Homo sapiens: one gene and its partners. The protein of the gene in region 3 interacts with the protein of the main gene of each other region in a biochemical or structural test. Each region holds a gene or a part of one and is shown on either strand. Other genes may lie near its edges.

What was found.
Region 1: the proteins of XAF1 (region 3) and RNF114 form a complex in vitro, tested with the Homo sapiens proteins (2 studies listed by BioGRID).
Region 2: the proteins of XAF1 (region 3) and RNF166 form a complex in vitro, tested with the Homo sapiens proteins (one study listed by BioGRID).

Annotation. Positions count from the first base shown.
Region 1 is NC_000020.11:49,946,385-49,950,133, forward strand, and holds part of RNF114 (E3 ubiquitin-protein ligase RNF114), read left to right. Parts: intron 1-2,863; coding exon 2,864-2,971; intron 2,972-3,749. UniProt on the Homo sapiens protein: E3 ubiquitin-protein ligase that promotes the ubiquitination of various substrates. In turn, participates in the regulation of many biological processes including cell cycle, apoptosis, osteoclastogenesis as well as innate or adaptive immunity.
Region 2 is NC_000016.10:88,699,796-88,703,544, reverse strand, and holds part of RNF166 (E3 ubiquitin-protein ligase RNF166), read left to right. Parts: exon of another isoform or gene 1-755; intron 756-2,126; coding exon 2,127-2,283; intron 2,284-2,594; exon of another isoform or gene 2,595-2,604; coding exon of another isoform or gene 2,605-2,925; exon of another isoform or gene 2,926-3,749. UniProt on the Homo sapiens protein: E3 ubiquitin-protein ligase that promotes the ubiquitination of different substrates. In turn, participates in different biological processes including interferon production or autophagy.
Region 3 is NC_000017.11:6,773,033-6,776,283, forward strand, and holds the end of XAF1 (XIAP-associated factor 1), read left to right. Parts: intron 1-80; coding exon 81-137; 3' UTR 138-2,615; downstream 2,616-3,251. UniProt on the Homo sapiens protein: Seems to function as a negative regulator of members of the IAP (inhibitor of apoptosis protein) family. Inhibits anti-caspase activity of BIRC4. Induces cleavage and inactivation of BIRC4 independent of caspase activation.

The DNA of each region.
Region 1 (3,749 bases), on a different chromosome or scaffold from region 3:
TTTGCTTAACCATGCTCTATAGTACACATTTTTTGCTGACCACTTGGGAATAAGCTACAGATACCATGACCATTTTTGCACCCTGAATACTTCGCACCCTGATACAGGAGTGTGTATGTCTTAAGAACAAGAATGTTTTCTTGGAAAATTATATTTTTGTGTGTATAATTAATCATATTCAAGAAATTTAACATTGATTCAATCTAATGTCTAATGTGAAATTCATGTTTTAATTTTAACAATTGTAATGTCTTTCATAGCAATTTCCCCCTCCCCCCAAGGCAGAGGCAGGGATGGTACACGAGTTCTCTGTCCTCTGGGTGCTACATTAAGTCATGTGATGTCTGTTGTTGGTAACATTAACTTGGTTCCCTTGGTGTCCACCAAATTTCTCCATGAAGCTGCCATTTTATTTTTGGAAGTAGCTTCTTCATAGTTGTGGGGAAAGAGGATTTAGGTGAAATTATTAGGAAAAGGCTTATCAATCCTTGGACATTTTACTCAGATATTACCTACTGGCATGTGTAGTCTCCTTTAAAAAAAAAAAAATGTAGGCTGGGCACGGTGGCTCACACCTGTAATCCCAGCACTTTGGGAGGCCAAGGCGGGTGGATCAGTTGAGGTCAGGAGTTCAAGATCAGCCTGGCTAACATGGTGAAACCCCATCTCTACTAAAAATACAAAAATTAGCCAGGCATGGTGGCGGGCGCCTTTAATCCCAGCTACTTGGGAGGCTGAGGCATGAGAATTGCTTGAACCTGGGAGGCAGAAGTTGCAGTGAACTGAGATCCTGCCACTGCACTCTAGTCTGGGCAGCAGAACAAAACTGCCCCCCCCCCCCCCCCCCCCCCCAAAAAAGTATTTGTTCCATCTTAGCAATGTGTTACCTTTCTCTCTCAATGTGATTGACAGACCAGGTCTTTTTTTATAGTTAGGTGTATACTTCCTCTATAGTTTTAATTTTTCCATTTATCTCATACTGCTTCTCTTGAACTACATACTCTGTTGTATGGGCAGCCTTCAGCTCCATTGCTGTAAACAGTGGTGCAGAAATTTTAGAATTTTAATGAGCTTTTGTGAGAGTACTAGGGCAGCTATCAATGCTCATCTTAAGATGGAACTGGCCATTTTGAGAAACATATCTTTGCCTGTATCTATGTATGTTTATAAGCTAAAGTCTTAGATACAGATTGACTTGGTTAAATGTTACTTGCACTCATAATTTTGTTGGATACTGTTATTGCTGAACTTTTCTGGTATGGCAGCCTAATTTTCTGTCTTTTTCCCCTCCTTTGGCTTCTGAAATCCCTCTGATTATGTTGTCTATGTTGAGGCCTTCTCTTCAGCCTTTGGCCCTCTGTTCTGTCTTCCTCTCCCTCTGCAAGTTTTTTTTTTTTTTTTTTTTTTTTTTTTTTTTTTTTTTTTGAGGCGGAGTTTCGCTCTGTCGCCCAGGCTGGAGTGCAGTGGCGCGATCTCGACTCACTGCAAGCTCCGCCTCCCGGGTTCACGCCATTCTCCTGCCTCAGCCTCCCGTGTAGCTGGGACTACAGGTGCGCGCCACCATGCCCGGCTAATTTTTGTATTTATGGTAGAGACGGGGTTTCACCGTGTTAGCCAGGATGGTCTCGATCTCCTGACCTCGTGATCCGCCCGTCTCGGCCTCCCAAAGTGCTGGGATTACAGGCGTGAGCCACCGCGCCCGGCCCTCTGCAAGTTCTTAACTCTGCGTTTCTCCCTTCCCTTTAGAAGCCATCTCCTTTTCAGTCTCTAGTCCCACCCTATGTTCTAGCTCCCCAGCTACAGCTGCCTGCCCACCTTTTCCACTCAGTCTTCTACCATTCCAGATTTCTCTCTTGTCAATCCCCTTTATCACTGTATCTTCCTTGCTGTGGGGTAGGGTTCCACCTTTAAGTGGGGGCACTTAGGTCTTCTCTCTCCCTGGCATGAGTTTTCTGCACTCACTGGTCTGGTTGTTTACATGTGTTGACAGTAACTGCCGCCTTCTGGCCTTTTCTCCGTGCTGCTGCCTCTCTTCTGGAGCACAATTTTTTTTTTTTTTTTTTTAAGACAGAGTCTCACTCTGTCACCCAGGCTGGAGGCTGGAGTGCAGTGGCACAATCTTGGCTCACTGCAACCTCCACTTCCAGGGTTCAAGCGATTCTCATGCCTCAGCCTCTCAGGTAGCTGGGACTACAGGCGTGTGCCACCATGCAAGGCTAATTTTTGTATTTTTAGTAGAGAAGATGTTTCACTATGTTGGCCAGGCTGGTCTCAAACTCCTGACCTCAGGTGATCTACCGCTTTGGCCTCCCAAAGTGCTGGGATTACAAGTGTGAGCCACTGTGCCCGGCCTGGAGCACTCTTTCATGTCCTCTTTGCCTTTCCAAATACTTCCCAATCTTCAAAAACCAAATCAACCTTTTGTGTGAGGGCTTTTCAGCCTGATCCCCCTCTTCTGAGCATTTCCTTTGTTAAGATGCATGTAAGGCTGTGTTTTACTTCCCTGGGACATTGCTCATCGGCTTATTTTCTTAGTTTTCCTCATGCTTTTGGATTGTCTTGTGTGCTGGATTGGAAGGCCAGTCTAGGCCCCCCACCAGGCTGACTCACTTCTCTGCTTACAGTAGGGAATGAGAAAGGGTGGTATCATGATTTGAACTTTACCCAGTCCCACGTGTCATTTGACTTGAGCTGGAAATTTGCAGTGTTTTTTTGGGCTGCTGATGTGCACAGGAAGGAGTTACTGGCCCTGGACAGTATGTCAGGAAAGCTGTCCTGGAAGAAAGGAGGCCAGACACAGGCCACAGAGGGCTGGTGCAAGCTTGGAAATTGGGTGCCTAAGACCTTGCTTTTGTGTTGAAAGGTTTGTCCGATATGTGCCTCGATGCCCTGGGGAGACCCCAACTACCGCAGCGCCAACTTCAGAGAGCACATCCAGCGCCGGCACCGGTTTTCTTATGACACTTTTGTGGTAAGTCTGGAGCCTGGGCTCTGATCCCTCCCCTGGGGGAGTGGCACGGCTACTTCACTCTTCTCAAAAGGGGAAATGGGGATCCCCAGTGTTGAACTTTGTCGCTGTTGTGATGGGCTTCCAGTCTGTATACTGGATACAGTGATAAAGGGGATTGACAAGAGAGAAAAGAAGACTGAGTGGAAGAGGCGGGCAGGCAGCTGTAGCTGGGGAGCTAGATGGGCTTCCAGTCTGTATACTGTAGCTACTATACAGTTTCTATTCATGGGCCAGGCAGGTGGCCAGAGTGACATTTATTTACTTACATGAGATGGAGTCTTGCTCTGTCGCCCAGGCTGGAATGCAGTGGCGTGATCTCAGCTCACTGCAGCCTCCACCTCCCGGGTTCAAGTGATTCTCCTGCCTCAGCCTCCTGAGTAGCTGGGACTACAGGCGCATGCCACCATGCCCCATTACTTTTTGTACTTTCAGTAGAGACAGGCTTTCACTATGTTGGCCAGGCTGGTCTCGAACTCCTGACCTCGTGATCTGCCCACCTTGGCCTCCCAAAGTGTTGGGATTACAGGCGTGAGCCACCACGCCCGGCCCAGAGTGACATTTAAGAAGATGATCTGGGCTGGGCGCAGTGGCTCACACCTGTAATCCCAGCACTTTGGGAGGCCGAGGTGGGCGGATCCTGAGGTCGGGGGTTCGAGACCAGCCTAGCCAACATAGTGAAATCCCGTCTTTACTAAAAATACAAAAAAATTAGCCAGGTGTGGTGGTGGGCACCTGTAAT
Region 2 (3,749 bases), on a different chromosome or scaffold from region 3:
TGGGTGCCTCGTTCTGCCTCCTGCTCCTCGGGCCCAGCCGCCCTGCCAGTCGGGCTGGGTTCCCTCTTGTGTCTTTCCTGAGTCCTTCCGGGGAGGACGAGGCTGTCTTCCTCCCAGCCAACCTTCTGGGCACCTTTCCTCTCTTCCCAAGCTCTGCCTGGGACCCTTTTCCTTCCCCTCAGCCCGTGGCCGTGCTGTGCAGCCGAGCCCCGGCCTGGTCTCTGGCAGCTCAGGGTTCACTCAGGAGGTGCACCATCCAGTCGTTTCCAGTGTGTTTGCAATTATGCAACAATCGATGCAATTCTAGAAGATTCTTCCCACTCCAGAAAGAAACCCAGGACTCTCCCCCTCGCCTGGCACCCACCCGTCTGCTTTCTGGTCACTGGGTTTCTCTCTGCTGGACGTTGAGCGTGAGTGGACCCCCACGACACGGGTGGGACGTGCTTGCTGTCTGCCCTGCACTGTTTTCCAGGCCTTCCGGTGCGTGGTGGGGCTGCACGCCTCTTCCCGGCCGAACGCCCTTTCCATGGGTGTGCACGCCACGCCGTCTCTTCATCCGTTTACCGACGGGCACCTGAGCTGCTTCCGCTTCTCCTGCCATGAGTGCCTGAGTATGGGGGTCCCCTGAGGCCTCCCCAGGTGGACCATCTTGCCAGCACCTTCCTCCCGTGAACGGGTGAAGTAGGCGGCCCCCCCGGCTCAAATCCAGGGGTCAGTGCCAGGGATGACCCTGGAAATATCTGCTGGGGCGCCTGGTGAGAACTCGGGTGAGGTGGGTAAAGTGAGCGACCTCTTTACTCTGCAGAAAAAGGCTTGTTCACTTTCTGACGGGTCTCAAGCTGAGTCCCGCTTTCTCTCACACGAAGTTTCATGTGGGAGCCACCAGCCAGGTGGTGGCTCTGTGGGAATCCAGTGGTGGCAAAGAGGGCCTGGGGGACAGCAGGAGGGACTTAAGATGCCTGCTTGGCCACCTTTGCCTGAGGCCCTCAGACTTCCTCCTTGCAGAAAGGGCCTTTTCTTGAGGGATGTGGAAATCTCTTGACAGCAAAGAGGACTCTGGCCCTGAATTCAGCTGAGTCGTTTGTGAACCCAGGGCCTGCCCACAGCCCCTCTGTCCAGTGGGGCTCCTGTACCAGCCCTGTGGCCTTGCCAGGGAGAAGGGAAGCTACACCCCCGGGTGCTGTAGCCTTCCTGGGACTGGGGGGCTCTGCCTCAGTTCCAGCTCCTCGCCGCAGCTCAGCTGTCCCCACAGTGCTCCTCACAAGGCCAGATGTGGCTGCCCCAGTATTAAGCTCCTTCTCTGTGTTTGCACTGGGGGCTCTCGCGCCTGGTGCTCCCACTGGCTGGTGGTGCACCCCTCCAAGGGCTGTGTGCGTCTGCAGAGCGGGAGGGTGTGCGAGCCCAAGGAAGCCCCTGCTGCTGGAGCCCGGAGTGCGCACGGGGCTGTGGGACGCTCAGTCTGTCCTCACGATGTGGTGTCCCCAGGGGCAGTGCCAAGAGCCAGGGCCCATGGGTGCCCAGGACCCGAGCCTCCGCCCAGATGGAGCAGGACCCCCTCCTGCCTGCGAAGCTGTCCCAAGCCTGGTGACTGCCACCCAGCCTCAGGATGTGCTGCCACTTGGCTAGCTTTGGCCCTTCCCTGTCCAGTGCATCTGGAGCCCCTGGGGCCTGGCCGTTTCCTTTCCCACGATTGTTTGAGGTTTTATCCCCCAGAGTGTGGAGCCGGGAGAGTTTCCAGAGTCCCCGGGCTGTCCCTGCGCCCCACAGCCCACCCAGGTGTTGTCGCCACGTGAACGTGAACCTGGTAGCCCGAGCTGGGGCCTCCTGCCTATGGGAGCTCCTCTGGCCCACTCGCGGGGACAGCCATAGTGACGGCTCTGCCGCTAGCCAGAAACCACAGGGGCCTACTGTCAGGAGGGACCGGGGCCACCCTTTAGCCAGATGGGGCCCATCCAGCTGGTGGGCCCCGGACATAGGAGTGACCATCTCCAGAGACGGCGACAGCGGTAGGGGGAGCTGCCCCTGTGGACCCCACAAATGCTGGGTCCTAAGAAGGGCCCCGAGCAAGGCCTGCGGTTCGGGAGACCCGAGGGGCGGGCTGGCACTCAGGCCCCTGTGCCCTGCAGGTTCTGCGGGGAGTGTCTCCAGCCCTGCCTGCAGGTGCCATCCCCGCTGTGCCCACTCTGCCGCCTGCCCTTCGACCCCAAGAAGGTGGACAAGGCCACCCACGTGGAGAAGCAGCTCTCATCCTACAAAGCGCCCTGTCGAGGCTGCAACAAAAAGGTACCCGCCTGCTTGGGCCGCCCTGGAGCCGGGGTCACTTGATGGGCAGCCTCAGCCCACGGGTTCTGCAGAGGGTGGGGGCCGGGGCCCTCTCTCTTTCCTGTTGAGTAATCGCGGTCTCTGCTCCTGCACCAGGAAGCCAGCCCCGGCGCCTCCCTCCCCTCCCGTCTTCATCTCTCACTTCCTGTGGTGACGGCTGACGGGGGGGCCAGCCCGGTGGGGGTAGCACTGTCAGAGCCGCCTAGCCCGGGCCAGGGGAACCCACGTGGGTTGTGGCCAGGGTAAGGACCAGGGGGCTGAGCTGAAACCTTCCCAATGCAGCCTTCCCCTGCCAGCCGATACCGGGGACGGCGCTGGGGGCTCCAAGGTCACAAGGGCCGCGGGCACAGTCAAGGACATCTAAGGGCCGAGCACCCTCCAGCTGCCAGGAGGGCCAGAGCCGGGCTGATGGGCACTGCCACACCCACATCAGAGCAGCGTAAGGGCCTGCAGCTTGTCATGGGCCTCATTGGCCCCCATGTCCATCCTGTCCTGGTGCCTGGCCCGTGCCCCGTGGCCCTCCCTGGCACATCCGCTTCAGGGTGGAGAGGCCCCAGCCAGCGCCCCGTTCTTTCAGTGGCTTCCGGAGGACTGAGCAGCTAGAGGTGATTTTGCATTTGCGTTTCCCGACGTTGCCACATCTCAGGTGAATAAGTTCTATGAAGCGCTCACACTAGTACGTGGCCCCTCGGTGGTTTGTCCTCGAGGTCGAAGGTCCAGATGTCCAGGGGCTGCCCTGGACTCCAGAGTGGTGCGGCTGAGCAGGCTGTGGTCTTGGGTGCTTGGGCACCTCCCGTCTCTCCCTGCTCAGAGTTCTTCTCTCCTGGGCAGCCAGAAAGGATCAGAACCGGTCACATGCAGAGCGGCCTCCCGTATCCCACAGCAGCTCCGTTCTCTAATCTGGGTCTTCAGATGCGGCTGTGTCTCCCGGCACCTTGCTGGAATGTGGTGCATCCCTCGGAGTCCAGCAGCCCTTAGGCAGAGCTGGGTGCCGAGCTTGAGTCCAGGAGGGCCTCAGACACCTGCGATCTTGCAGCCTGTTGCCCTGGACAGTGGGTGTGCTGTGGGTGGAGGATGGCGCCCTGCCTCCACGGAAGCATCCCCAGCTTGCCCCTCAGTCACACGAAGCGTCTGTCCCCAGCCTGGGGCATTTCTGAGTGGCCTCCACTTGGCCTCTTCCTTTTTCTGGAGCAAGTATTTGAACTCCTGCAGGCGCCAGAGATCTCCTTACCTGTTTCCCGCTACCCTTCTCCAGCCAGGTTTCTGCCCTCGGCCAGATTGTCCTGCAGTGACTTGCTTTTGGCCATGGAGTAGTGGCTGCTCAGTGCCTGAGATTGTTTTAGCAGCAGAAGGGACCGGGTCCCCCTGCTGCTGGCAACACAGACGCTTGCTTACAGTTCTCTGGTCCTGGACACCTGAGGTCTCGG
Region 3 (3,251 bases):
ACAGCAATATCCAGAGATATTCTAGGAGCTAGCACTTCTTACTTTAACCATATCAAACTTTTTTTATATCCATTTCTTAGGAGAAATGCCGGTGGTTAGCTTCATCAAAAGGAAAACAAGTGAGAAATTTCAGCTAGATTTGGAAAAGGAAAGGTACTACAAATTCAAAAGATTTCACTTTTAACACTGGCATTCCTGCCTACTTGCTGTGGTGGTCTTGTGAAAGGTGATGGGTTTTATTCGTTGGGCTTTAAAAGAAAAGGTTTGGCAGAACTAAAAACAAAACTCACGTATCATCTCAATAGATACAGAAAAGGCTTTTGATAAAATTCAACTTGACTTCATGTTAAAAACCCTCAACAAACCAGGCGTCGAAGGAACATACCTCAAAATAATAAGAGCCATCTATGACAAAACCACAGCCAACATCATACTGAATGAGCAAAAGCTGGAGCATTACTCTTGAGAAGTAGAACAAGGCACTTCAGTCCTATTCAACATAGTACTGGAAGTCCTCGCCACAGCAATCAGGCAAGAGAAAGAAATAAAAGGCAACCAAAAAGAAAGGAAGTCGAAGTATCTCTGTTTGCAGACGATATGATTCTATATCTAGAAAACCCCATGATCTTGGCCCAAAAGCTCCTAGATCTGATAAACAACTTCAGCTAACTTTCAGGAGACAAAATCAATATACAAAATATGGTAGCATTTTTATACACCAACGACATCCAAGCTGAGAGCCAAATCAAGAATGCAATCCTATTCACAATTGCCACAAAAAGAATAAAATACCTAGGAATACAGCTAACCAGGGAGATGAAAGATCTCTACAACAAAAATTACAAAACACTGCTGAAAGAAATCAGAGATGACACAAATGGAAAAACATTCCATACTTATGGATAGGAAGAATCAATATTGTTAAAATGGCCATACTACCCAAAGCAATTTATAGATTCAATGCTATTCCTATCAAACTACCAATAACATTCTTCACAGAATCAGAAAAAAAAAGCATTAAAATTTATTTGAAACCAAAAAAGAGCCCAAAAAGCCAAAGCAATCCTAAGCAAAAAGAACAAAGCTGGAGGCATCGCATTACCCAACTTCAAACTATACTACAGGGCTACAGTAACCAAAACTGCATGATACTGGTACAAAAGCATGGTGCTGGTACAAAAGCAGACACATAGATCAATGGAACAGAATAGAGGGCCCAGAAATAAAGCTACACACCTACAACCATCTAATCTTTGACAAAGTTGACAAAAATACGCAATGGGGAAAGAATTCCCCATTCAGTAAGTGGTACTGGGATAACTAGCTAGCCATATGCAGAGGATTGAAACTGAACCACTTCCTTACACCATATGCAAAAATCAACTCAAGATGGATTAAAGACTTAAATGTAAAACCCCAAACTATAAAAACTCTGGAAGATAACCTAGGCAATACCATTCTGGACATAGGAACGGAAAAAGATTTCATGACAAAGATCCCAAAAATAATTGTAACGAAAGCAAAAATTGACAAATGGGACATGATTAAACAGAATTACCATTTGACTCAGCAATCCCATTATTGGTTATATACCCAAAGGAATCTAAATCATTCTGTCATAAAGACATATATACACAAATGTTCACGGCAGCACTATACACAATCGCAAAGTCAGGGAATCAAACTAAATGTCCATCAGTGGTAGAAAGGATAAAGAAAATGTGGTGGCAGGGAGTGGTGGCTCATGTCTGTAATCCCAGCACTTTGGGAGGCTGAGGCGGGTGGTTCACCTGAGGTCAGGAGTTTGAGACCAGCCTGGCCAACATGGAGAAACTCCGTCTCCGCTAAAAATACGAAAATTAGCCAGGCGTGGTGGCGAGCACCTGTCATCCCAGCTACTTGGGAGGCCTAGGCGTGAGAATCGCTTGAACCTGGAAGGTGGTGGTTGCAGTGAGCCGAGATCCTGCCACTGCACTCCAGCCTGGGCAACCAAGCGAGACTCTGCCTTAAAAAAAAAAAAAAGAAAATGTGGCACATATACACCATGGAATACTATGCAGCCATAAAAAAGAATGGGATCATGTCCTGTGCAGCAACGTGGATGGAGCTGGAAGCCATTATCCTAAATGAACTCACTCAGAAACAGAAAACCAAATACCACATGTTCTCACTTATAAGTAGAAGCTAAACATTGAGTACACATGGATACAAAGAAGGGAACCGCAGACACTGGGGCCTACCTGAGGTCGGAGCATGGAAGGAGGGTGAGGATCAAAAAACTACCTATCTGGTACTATGCTTTTTATCTGGATGATGAAATAATCTGTACAACAAACCCTGGTGACATGCAATTTACCTATATAGCAAGCCTACACATGTGCCCCTGAACCTAAAAAAAAAGTTAAAAGAAAAACGTTTGGATTATTTTCCCTCTTTCGAACAAAGACATTGGTTTGCCCAAGGACTACAAATAAACCAACGGGAAAAAAGAAAGGTTCCAGTTTTGTCTGAAAATTCTGATTAAGCCTCTGGGCCCTACAGCCTGGAGAACCTGGAGAATCCTACACCCACAGAACCCGGCTTTGTCCCCAAAGAATAAAAACACCTCTCTAAAAGCTGCTCTTCCACCTTTCTTTGGGTTCCGCACTGGTTTTCCAGGGCCAGGAATGGCAGCAGCCAGGACCCCAGGATAAGGGCAGTGCCCAAGGAAAGGGGAGCAGAAGACATTCAGGGAGGGGGAAAGAAATGAGGCTGGGACAGTGGATAAGGGCCAGGTGAAGGGGAGAGGGGCGGCTTCTGAAGGCTTTGGGCAGGGAGAGTGGCTGGGGGAAGCCTAGTAATGCAACCTATCCAGCGGCGGCTTCGGAAAAAACCCGGGGCTGGGTCAGGATGGGAAAGGCAGCGAACTGAACCGTTTTGAGCCCCAAGTTCGGGGCCGAATGTCTTCCCTGTGCGCAGAAGCAAGGGCGGGGGCGTGCCATCCTCACCCGGAGCGCCGGCCGAGCCTCCCGCCTCCCAACGCCTGGCCAGGGCCCCGTCTCGCCCTCTGCACATGGGATCCACTGACCAGGCAACTGCAGGTTTGGGGCTCTGCGACCCGGGGGCAGGAACAGAGCCTTGCAGGCGGCAGCGCGTCACAAAGGCGGCCGGAGCTTGGCATTTAGCTTGGGCCAGAGCAAGGCGCAGACCCGGGGCGCCCATGGAGTTGGCGTCGGAGCAACAGCTGCGCGGGCGGAGCAGGTAGGCGCGCT